Linked DNA regions of Homo sapiens: region 2 is linked to region 1. The links come from fine-mapping of genetic effects on gene expression. Tissue or cell type: tibial artery. Region 1 holds a variant in brackets; the other region holds the start of a gene. All regions are shown on one strand. Distances are between the middles of the regions.

Region 1 (5,477 bases):
TTTGATTCTTTCTTATAGCCCTTAGCATTTTAATGAGTTATTTAAAATGTCCAGTTTGATCATTCAAAATCTACCTTATCTGAGTTTGGTTTCGATGCTTGCTTTGTCTCTTCAGACCTTTTCCTTGCCTGTTACATGCCTTGCAATTTTTTGTTGAAATCTGGACATGGCTTATTGAGTAGTAGAAACTCAGGTAAACAGGTGTTTAATGTGAGATTTTAGGTTTATCTGGCTGGGAGTTAGGCTGTGTTTAATGTTCACTAGGTATTTATATTGTTTGTAGGTATAAGACATTTCATTTTCCTCTACTTTCCTGGTTTTTGTCTTGTTTTGAGTTTCCTTAGAAACTTTTATTAATTAAAAAAAGTCTATTTCTTGTAATTTTCTCAGTTGTAATCTGTTATATTGGAGCCCTGTTTAGTAGAGAGGAGAAGTGTTCTATAATCATATGATGAAATCTGTTGGGTTTTTTAGTGGACCAGAGTTCCTGAACGGACCTTCAAAAGAATTTCTTAAGCTTTTTTCTTCCCTCCTCTCAGGCAGGTTAGAGGGGGCTGGAATTATTGCTCTTACTCTAGGTCAGATTTCAAAATGGTTACTTTTCCCTTTTCCCTACTCAAAATGGAGGGATTTTACTCTAATAAAAACCAGGTGGAGCTCCTTTTCTCACCTATATTCTTCCTTAAGACTGAGCCCTCACAAGTTAAAGCTCAAGTTAGTTCACTCTCAGTCTCCAGCAGTTTGCTACTTACTTTTAAAGTGTTCCTTCCAGTTATTGGCTTTAGAGTAAATATAGCTCCATATGTCTATATTCACATGTTTCTTCAGTTTTTCTGGAGGTGTTGTGACCTGTGAACTCAGTTTTCCAGTGCTTCTAAGAGTAGTTGATTTTCAGTTGTTCTGCTTTTTTTCTTGTGAGGATGGGAGTGATGATTTCCAAGCTGTTTACGTAATAGAGTGGAACAAAGTTGTCATCTTTATTTTTTTAATGAGAGTTGTATTGAGATGTATAATTCATGTACATATTCACCCTTTAAAAATGCACAATTTGGTAATTTTTACTATATTCACAGAGTTATGCAACCCTTACTATTTAATTTTTAAACATTTTTGTCACCTGAAAAAGGAACCCCAAAACACTCACTCCTCCCAGTTCCAGGCAGCAACTAACTATTTTGTTTTTATGGATTTACTTATTCTGGACATTTCATATAAATGGAATTATACAAAATGTGACCTCTCGTTTCTGACTTCTTTATCTTAACATGTTTTAAAGGTTAATGTTTTAAAGGTTGATTTATGCTGTATCATATATCAATACTCCATTCCTTTTTGTTGCCAAATTAATATTCCATTGTATTAATATATCACATTTTGTTTATCCATTGGTTGGTGGAAACACTTTTTGACTGTTAAGAATATTGCTGTTATGAAGAATTGTGTAACATAGTATGGCTATGTGTTTTCATTTTTATTGCAGAAAATGGGAGTGTAATTTCTGGGTCATAGATACCCTATGATTAACTTTTTGAGGAGCTGCCAGACGGTTTTCCAAAGTGGCTGTACCATTTTACTTACTACCAGCTATGATAGTTGCAGTTTCTCCACATTCTTGTCAACACATATCTTCTTGATTCTAGCCATCCTAGTGTATGTAAAATGAGAGCTCATAGTGTCTTTTGATTTGCATCTCTAATTACTAATGATTAACATAGTTTTACTTGCTTATTGGACATTTATACATCTTTGAAGAAATGTCTATTCAGATCCTTTGCCCATTGTTTTAGTAGGGTTTTCCTTTTATTGAGCTGTAAGAGTTCTTTATATATACTGTAAAAAGTTACCCTATCAGATATATGATTTGCATATATTGTCTGCCATTCTGTGAATTGTCTTTTAGTTTCCTTGACAGTATCCTTTAAATCACAAAAATTTTAAATTTTATGGAGTCTAGTTTGTCTACTTTTTTTTTTTTTTTTTTTTCTAAGATGGAATTTTGCTCTGTCTCCCAGGCTGGAGTGCAGTGGTATGATCTTGGCTAACTGCAAGCTCCACCTCCCGGGTTCACACCATTCTCCTGCCTCAGCCTCCCAAGTAGCTGGGACTACAGGCGCCCACCACCACGCCCGTCTAATTTTGTTTTTGTATTTTTGGTAGAGACGGGGTTTCACCGTGTTAGCCAGGATGGTCTCGATCTCCTGACCTCGTGATCTGCCTGCCTCAGCCTCCCAAAGTGCTGGGATTACAGGCATGAGCCACCACACCTGGCCTAGTTTGTCTATTTTTTCTTGTGTTTCTTCTGCTTCTGATGTCATATCTAAGAGACCATTGTCTTAAGCCACTATCAGAAAGACTTACATCTGTGTTTTCATCTAAGAGTTTCATAGTTTTAGCTCTTCAGTTAGCTCTCTAATCCATTTTGTGTTAATTTTTATATATGGTGTGAGATAGGGATCCAGCTACAT[T/C]CTTTTTGAAAATATTTTTTTATTTTTGAGACAGAATCTTAATCTGTCACCCAGGCCAGAGTGCAGTGGCACAATCTGAGTTCACTGCAACCTCCGCCTCCCAGGCTCAAGCAATTCTAATGCCTCAGCCTCCCGAGAAGCTGGGACTACAGGCATGTGCCACTGCACCTGGCTAATTTTTGTATTTTTAGTACAGATGGGCTTTTGCTATGTCGGCTAGGCTGGTCTTGAACTCCTGACTTGAAGTGATCCACCCACCACCTTGGCCTTTCAAAGCGCGGGGATTATAGACTTGAGCCACTGTGCCCGACCTCAGCTGCATTCATTTGCATTTGTATGTTTTCCCAGTACCATTTGTTGAAAAAAAAAAAACCAGTTCTTTCCCCACTGGATTGTTTTTTCCTGCTTGTCAAAAATCAATTCATCTACCAGATGCTGTGGCTCACACCTGTAATCCCAACACTTTGGGAGGCCAAGGTGGACAGTATTGCTTGAGCCCAGGAGTTTGAGACTAGCCTGGGCAACATGGAGAAACCCTGTCTGTACAAAAAATGCGAAAAAAAGTTAGCCAGGCATGGTGGCATGCAACTGTAGTCCCAGCTACTCGGGGGCTGAGGTGTGAGGATCACCTAATCGGGAGAAAAAAGGCTGCAGTAAGCTGTGGTCATGCCACTGCACTGCAGCCTGGTTAAAGTGAGACCTTACTTGTCGCAAAACAACAACAATAACAAAATTAATTGATCGTGAATACAAGAGTTTCTGAAATCTCAATTCTATGGCATTGATCTCTATGTCTGTTTTTAAGCCAGCAACACATTCTCTTGGTTACTGTAGCTTTTTATTGAGTTTTAAAATTGGAATGTGTGAGTCTTCCAACTTTTTTGTTCTTTTTCAAGATTATTTTGGCTCTACTGGGCCCTTGCATTTGTGTATGATTTCAGGATCAGTTTGTCAATTTCTGCAGCAAAGCAAGTTAGGATTTTGATAGGGTTTGTGTTGAATCTCTAGATTAATTTGGGGAGTATTGCTATTTTAACAGCATTTAGTCTTCAAATCCATGAATATGGCATGGGGAGTCTTTCCATTTACTTAGCAGTTCTTTCATTTTTTCAACAATGTCGTTTTTAGTGTTCAGATTTCACACTTCTTTTGTTATATTTATTCCTAAGTATTCTTTTTTTTTATTCTGTTCCAAATGAAAGTATTTTCTTAAATTCATTTTCAAATTATTTCTAGTGTGTAGAAATACAACTGATTTTTGCATATTAATCTTGTATCTTGTAGTCTTGTTGAACTTGATTACTTTTAATAATTTTGGGGGAGGAGATTCTTTAGGATTTTCTATATACAAAATTGTGCCATCTGTCAATAGAGGATGCTTATTTCTTGCTTTCTGATCTGATGGCTTTTATGTCTTTTTCTTGCCCTCTTGCCCAGGGTAGAAGTTTCAGTACTATGTTGAATAGAAGTGGTGAGAGAAGACATCCTTTTTTTTGTCCCTAATCTTAAGGTCAAAGTATTCAGTCTTTTACCACTAAGTATGCTGTTAGCTGGGGATTTTTCATAGATGTTCTTTATCAGTGTGAGGAAGTTTCCTTCTGTTTCAAGCTTGCTGAGTCATGATTTTTCATGATTTTTTTTAAATCGTGAAAGGGTGATGAGTTTTGTGAAATTCTTTTTCTATGCCTGTTGAGATGATTATATGGATTTTGTTCTTTATTTTCTTAATATATTACATTGATTGATTTTTGTTTGTTAAACGAACTTCATGTTTTTGGGATATAAATCCCATTTGGTCATGATTTATAATCTTTTTTATGTGTTGCTGGATTTGATTTCCTAGTAATTTGTTGAGGATTTTTGCATTTGTATTAATGAAGGATATTTTTTCTGTAGTTTTTTTGTGATGCCTTTATCTAGTTTTGGTAACAAGATAGTACTGGCTTTGTAGAATGAGTTAGGAAGTATTTCTAGCTTTTTTGGAAGAGTCTGGGAAAGATTAATGTTAATTTTTATGTTTGGTAGATTTCCCCAGTGAAGCCATCTGAGCACGGGCTTGTCTTTGTGTTTTAAAATTACTATGCAGTTTCAGTAGTTTGTGTCTTTCTAGGAATTTGTCCATTTAAAGGAGGTTATGTAATTCATTGTTCATAGTATTTAATAATTGTTTTCTTATGATCCTTTTTAGTTTAGTAGTAATACTCTTGTAATTCCTGATGTTTAGTAATTTGAGTCTTCTTTTATTTTTCTTGCTTAGTAGAACCTACTTTTGAATTTGTTGATTCTATTGTTTTTCTAGTCTCTCCTCTTATTTCTCCCCTAATCTTTATAATTCCTTTTCTGCTACCTGCTTTGGGTTTAGTTCATTCTTAATGGTAGAAATTGGATTACTAATTAGAGATCTTTCTTTTTTATTTAATTTTAATTTTTGACAACAGTAACAAAAAATGTGTTGCGTAAGAATGGGGATACGTTCTGAAGAATGTGTGGTTAGGTGATTTTGTCATTGTAGGAATATCATAGAATGTACTTACACAAACCTAAATGGTATAGACCATACCACATGGCTTATTAAACACCTAGGCCATGTTGTGTGGTCTATTGCTCTGCTCCTAGGCTACAAAACTGAATAGCTTGTTATTGTGTTACAATAGGGAATTGTAACACAATGGTTTTGTGTATCTAAATACATCACATAGGAAAGATACAGTAAAAATGTGTGGTATAAAAGATTTAAAATGGCACACTTGTATAGAACAGCTCCATTATAATCTTATAGGACTATTGTTGTACATGCGGTCTGTTGTTGACCGAAACATTTGTTATGTGGAACATCACTGTAAATAGGTTTTTAAAAGTGTTTCTTGCATTGCCAGCATGTGATACATATACTAACTTAATCAAGAATGTAATAGATCAAAGATGCATTAAAATCTTAATAAGGTAGTCATTAATATACTGCCAAAAGGTATAGCAGAAAACTAATAATGGCCATAAAACAAAAATAAGAAT
Region 2 (5,477 bases), 96 kb after region 1:
AGTCTTGAGTGAAAGGAACAAAGCCAAAGGCATCACACTCCCTAATCTCAAAATATATTATAGGGCCATTGTAATCAAAACTGCATGGCACTGGCATAAAAATCGGCACATCAACCAATGGAACAGGAATAGAAAGCCCAGAAATAAGCCCAAGTATTTACAGTCAATTGATTTTTGACAAAGGTGCTAAGAACACACAATGGGAAAAGGAAAGTCTCTTTAATAAATGGCATCAGGAAAACTGAATATCCACATGCTGGATAACAAAATTGAGTCCTTATCTCACACCATATACAAAAATCAACTCAAAATAGATTAAAGTCTCAAACATAACACCTGAAACTGTAAAACTAATAGAAGATAACATAGGTGAAAACTCCATATTAGTCTGGGCAATGATTTCTTGGATAGGACCCCAAAAGCAACAAAAGCAAAAATAGACACATGGGATTGCATCAAACTAAAAAGCCTCTGCACAGCAAAGAAAATAATTAACAGAGTAAAGAGACAACCCACAGACTGGGAGAAAATATTTGCAAACCATGCATCTGATAAGGGGCTCTTATCTAAAATATATAAGAAACTCAAAAAACTCAACAGCAAAACAAAACAAAACGAATAACCCGGTTAAAAAATGGACAAAGAACCTGAACAGGTATTCCTCAAAAGAAGACATATGAATGGTCAACAAATACATGAAAAACGCTCAACTTTGCTAACCACCAGGGAAATGCAAATTAAATCACACTGAGCTACCACCTCACGCTTGTTAGAATGGCTATTATAAAAAAGATCAAAGACAACAAGTTTTGTCCAGAATGTGGAGAAAAGGGAACCCTGGTACACTGTTGGTGGAATGTAAATTAGTACAGCCATTTTGGAAAACAGTATGGAGGCTCCTCAAAATCTAAAAATAGAATTACCACATGACCCAGAAATCCTACTTCTGGGTATATATACAAAGGAATTGAAATCAGTATGTTGAAGAGATAGCTGCATTCCTGTGTTGTTTTCAGCATTATTCACAATAACCAAGATATAGAAGCAACTAAGTATCCATCAACTGAGGACCGGATAAAGAAAATGTGGCACATATATACAATGGAATACTATACAGTCTTAAAACAGAAGGCAATTCTGTCATTTGCAACAACATGGATGAACCTGGAGGACATGAGGCCAAGTAAAATAAGCCAGGCACAGAAGGACAAACAGCACATGATCTTACTTATATACTTGGGGTCTAAAAAAGTTGAACTCATAGAAGCAGAGTAGAATGATGGTTACCAGGGGCCTGGCAGAGGGCTGATGTGGAAGGGAGGGATGTTGGTCAAAGGATACAAAGTTTTAGTTAGGTAAGAGGAGTAAGTTTTAGTGATCTACTGCACAGCATGGTGACCATAGTTGATGATGTATTGTATATTTCCAGGAGAGTAGATTTTCACCACAAAAAATAAGTAGGTGAGGTGATGGATATGTCAATTAGCTTGATTTAATCTTTCTACAATGTATACATATATCAAAACATTACACTGTACGCTATAAATATATAAATTTGTCAATAAAAATAATTATATAAATATATATTTATATAAAACAAAATACATGCTAAGGATAATGCAATGAACTGCAAAAAGTTGTACAGGCTCCCAATAAATAATTTTTGAACGCCTAAGAGCTAAATAAATGCAATACATCACTCCCAGGTGTCTCCACTAGGGGGCCCCATTCCCTCCCGTTCCATCACCTGCTTTCCTCAAGGTCGTCTCCACCCTCCTATTTGTTGATACCCGGCCTCTGACCCAGTTCATCACTTTCCCGGGCTTCCGGGCGCCACCCTCTTCAGGTTTTCCTCCTACCCCTCCAGCCCTGCCCCTCTGGATCTCCCATCCTCCCAGCGCGCCAGACTGCATGCGGCCTCCCCGCCCTGTGTCCAAGAGGCAGCTTCCACTCCACGCGGGCAAGCCTGAGCTCCAGAGCCGTCCTCAAGCCGCCTCCCCCCGAAGCACTGGGACTTCATCCTCCCGGCTACTACTCGTGCCCAGGGACTAGGCCCTGAGCCTTCCCTTCTCGCACGCCCCATAGCCAAGCTGCTCAGCAGAACCTGACGGCTCCACCTTCAAACTACGTCCGGAATCCGACCCCTCTCCACGCCCACTGCCTCCACCCCGGCCACCTTCCTCGGTCACCCTGGCAGCTGCAATGACCAGGGTGACCTTTCTGAAAAGGGAGGCTCTGTTCGGAGCCCTCGCGGGGCTCCCCAGCACAGCGGCCTCCCATGCCCACCTGCTCGGGTGGGATTACTTTCCAACCCCGTTTCCATCCCCCTCCCTGGTCTCCAGCCGCAGCGACCCCCACGCAGAGCCCGGAAGACCTTGGGCCCCGCACATGCTGCCGGCCCGCTAAGAGCTCTGGGTACCCCCGGAGCGCCTTCCAGGCTTTCTCCTAGAGGCGCTGTGTCCCGACCGCGCTCCGGACCTGAGCCACGGCTCACCTGGGGCAGCTCGCGCCCCCGAATACAGTCTCCCACGCCCCGCCCCCCGGGGTGCCTCCCTCCCAGCTCTCTGTACCCACCCACCATCCCCCACATCCCTTCCTCCAACCGCTAGCCAGTCACCAGCCCGGGACCGCAGGGCAGAGGCCGGGCCGCGCATGCGCACCGCGGACCGGTGCCACCTCCGCTCGCGAGCCCGCGGCAGGCCCTGGGCGGTGCGCGCAGTCCCGCGAGAGCAGTGCTTGGTCGGGACCTCGAAGCCGGAGCCCGAGCGGGAGAGGCCGCGGAGACCCCGGCCCGGCGCAGGCAGAGACGCACCTGCGGGAGGCGGGCGCGCCGGCTGGAGAGGAGGCCGTGGGGCGGAGCGGCTCAGCGTTCTGCTCGGCTGCAGCGGCCCCTGCCGGAGACCCGGGCGCCGTGGTCTTCTTTATAATTGAAGGATTGTCTCTCTGTTTTTATTTGGGGTGGGGGTGGGGGTGGGGGGCGGCGCAGTGACTTGCTTCGACTTTGTCAGCTTCCAGGGTTCATTCCACTGCCCAAATATGTAGTGAGTTACTACCGGCTTTGCTTCCTCCTTCAGCAAACGGCTGGACCACACAACTTCAGGAGAGAGGATTTTAAATGTTAGGGTCATTTTCCCTAAAACGATTTCAAATGACGGTGAGTTGGTTCCCAGGCTAGGCCACCTAACCTCGAACGCAATGACGAGTGCACTCTGACTGCTGAGCTGAGAGCCTTCCGTGGCTCTGGGACCCAGTGACTCACGTGGCTCCGCATGTCCCCGTTCCCTTAAAATCGGAGTCTTTCCTTTTCTTGGATTCCGGCTTGCCACCAGCACCACTTGGCAGAATGGAATTGCTTGCGGGCATGTCAGTGGACTAGAAAGGGAAGTAAGTGGTCTGAGAACTTGGGGGCCAAAAATGTTACATTAACATTTTTTGCCTACCTAAAATCTCAGCCACTTCCCACAGTTTGGCTGGAAATTCAGCCCATGTTGAGGCCCTTCTCATTCCTGCAGGTGTTACCAGCAACTCAGAGGTTTATGGAGTAACGAAATTGGGGAGGGCCTCACATCCGGCTGCTGTTTTTCCCCCTAACGTGTATGGTGCTTATTCTGAGCCAGACACTTTTAAGAACTGCACATTATTAACCATTTTAAATCGTCCCCACCACCTGATGAAATAGGTACTGTTATCCCCACTTTATGGGTGGGGAAACCGAGGCCCAGGGAGGTCAAGTAACTGCGCAAAGCACAAAACTGTTGAGTAGTAGTGTTACCAGGGCAGTCCTGGAGAAATCGCTCAGAGGGCAAAACTGAGAGCTCATTATTTTCTTAAACAGTAGACAGCTGAAAATGCTCATTGTTTTTTAAACCGTTTTGTTTGTTTGATTTTTTTTCCTAGTCTCTTTATCTATAGGTAACCCAGCTTAAAACAACTGCGGTTGGCCCGGGATCCTCACTGCCCTTTGCCAAGTACCAGAGAAAGATAAGGCCTACTAGGAACCAGAGAAAACCAGAACCAGCCACCCCTTGTTACTTTTAGATCATTAATACATCATTATATGCTCAACTCCCGACCCGTAGAAGAGAATCGCCGCCATTTTCTGATAGTGCATTGTATGAAGAGGCATGTTTATGAAATGCACCTGTGCGTCTAGAGTTCCTCCCGGCATATGCTTGCATACCTCCCCACTCCACATCTAACGCCTTACAATTCCCCAGCTTCCCAAAGCTCTGGAAGAAGGGGGTCTTTAGAGTGAAAGTTTACTCCTTCTCTATTCCTGGCCAGGAATGAAACCCGCTTGCCGTTTTTTCCAGTTGGTGTGCTTTCTTTGCAACTGATACAGACTAGGAAAAGAACGCAATTTACCAGTAACAGTAGAGCTGGGATTTAAATCTAAGTGCTTTGACTTCAAAGACAAGGTTCCAAGCTGCTACACATACCAATTCTCGTTAAAGTGTATTCCATTTCTTTTGTGCTTTCATATTGACCATTGTGTGTTAATCCTTTCAATTGGAAGAAGAGGGAGACAGTGCCAGTTATTGCAAACTTTCACAGTCCACAGGCCCGATATGTAGCCTTCACCACCCACAGGTTCTGCCACTTCTGGGGCATTATATTCCATCAAGATCCAGGCACCCGCCATCCACATACCAGCCCTGGAACTCGTCCCTTCTCCCAGACTTGGAAACGCCACCTCTCCCTGACCAATGTCGAGCCACTTCCTCATCTTGATACATCAGCCACTATCCTTTCCATCTTTCAGGCAACTCCAGCTTAATTTCTCGATGGCCTTGCCCTTCTAAAAGGCCGTTCTCTTTTCCCAGATGACTTTTTCCTATCCCCTCCACAGTAACTCCCCTCATCCTTCCAGTCTCAATTCAATTGTTCCTTGGTGGGGTGGGGCGGGGGGAGCCTTCTTAAACCCTCCTCCCTCACAACTGCATGAGGTCCCTTGTCTCTAATATAAGCTCCTGTAGCACCATGGCACTTATCCCAGTTGAGATTTTAAATATATTTCTGTGTATTTGATTAAAGTTTCTCTCCTCCACCAGGCTGTGAAGGTGGCTTCTTGTTTTGTTTTGCTCCCCGTGGTATTCCCAGCACCTCAGGATCCCTTATAGTAGATGCTGAATTAGTAAATACATATTAAATAAATGAATGAACAATCTCACAGGAAAAGCAGCCTCAAACTCAGAGGATAATGGCTTGGGCTATCTTTACTAAAATTTAAGAGGCGAATGACCTTTTCTTTCTGCTTATGAGTCTGTCTGTAGCAGCACAAAATAAAAAATAAACAAGCAAGATAGAGTTCATTGATAACTCATCCTATTTACAGAGGTTTTCCTGGGACATGTGGGTAGGTGACAGAAAAGTTTAGAAGCACATACACTGGAAAATAATTTTGCCTATTTCCTTTGGTGAGATTCAGACATGTCAAGCTTTAACTCTGGAAAGAAAATCTCTCTCCATCCTGAGTT

Evidence for each region. PIP is the estimated chance that this variant, and not a neighbour inherited with it, causes the effect.
Region 2: it holds the start of SIRT5, and the variant in region 1 is fine-mapped to the expression of SIRT5 in tibial artery (GTEx, PIP above 0.99). The same link has a PIP of 0.9 or more in amygdala, atrial appendage, sigmoid colon, subcutaneous fat, thyroid and whole blood.

The regions. Positions count from the first base shown.
Region 1 is chr6:13,667,308-13,672,784 of GRCh38, reverse strand. All of the region lies in intron 2 of RANBP9 (RAN binding protein 9), which reads left to right. Among named protein-coding and RNA genes, the nearest start is that of RANBP9, 42 kb to the left of the region's middle. The variant T/C (reference allele first, on the strand shown) is at 2,466.
Region 2 is chr6:13,571,642-13,577,118 of GRCh38, reverse strand. SIRT5 (sirtuin 5) reads right to left here and starts at 2,518. Exons shown (of 10, transcript NM_012241.5): 1 at 2,375-2,518. LOC105374937 (a long non-coding RNA gene) reads left to right here and starts at 2,685. Exons shown (of 2, transcript XR_926497.4): 1 at 2,685-3,154; 2 at 3,898-5,047. RefSeq lists enhancers at 1,581-2,166, 1,756-2,235, 2,167-2,753 and a silencer at 2,446-2,965.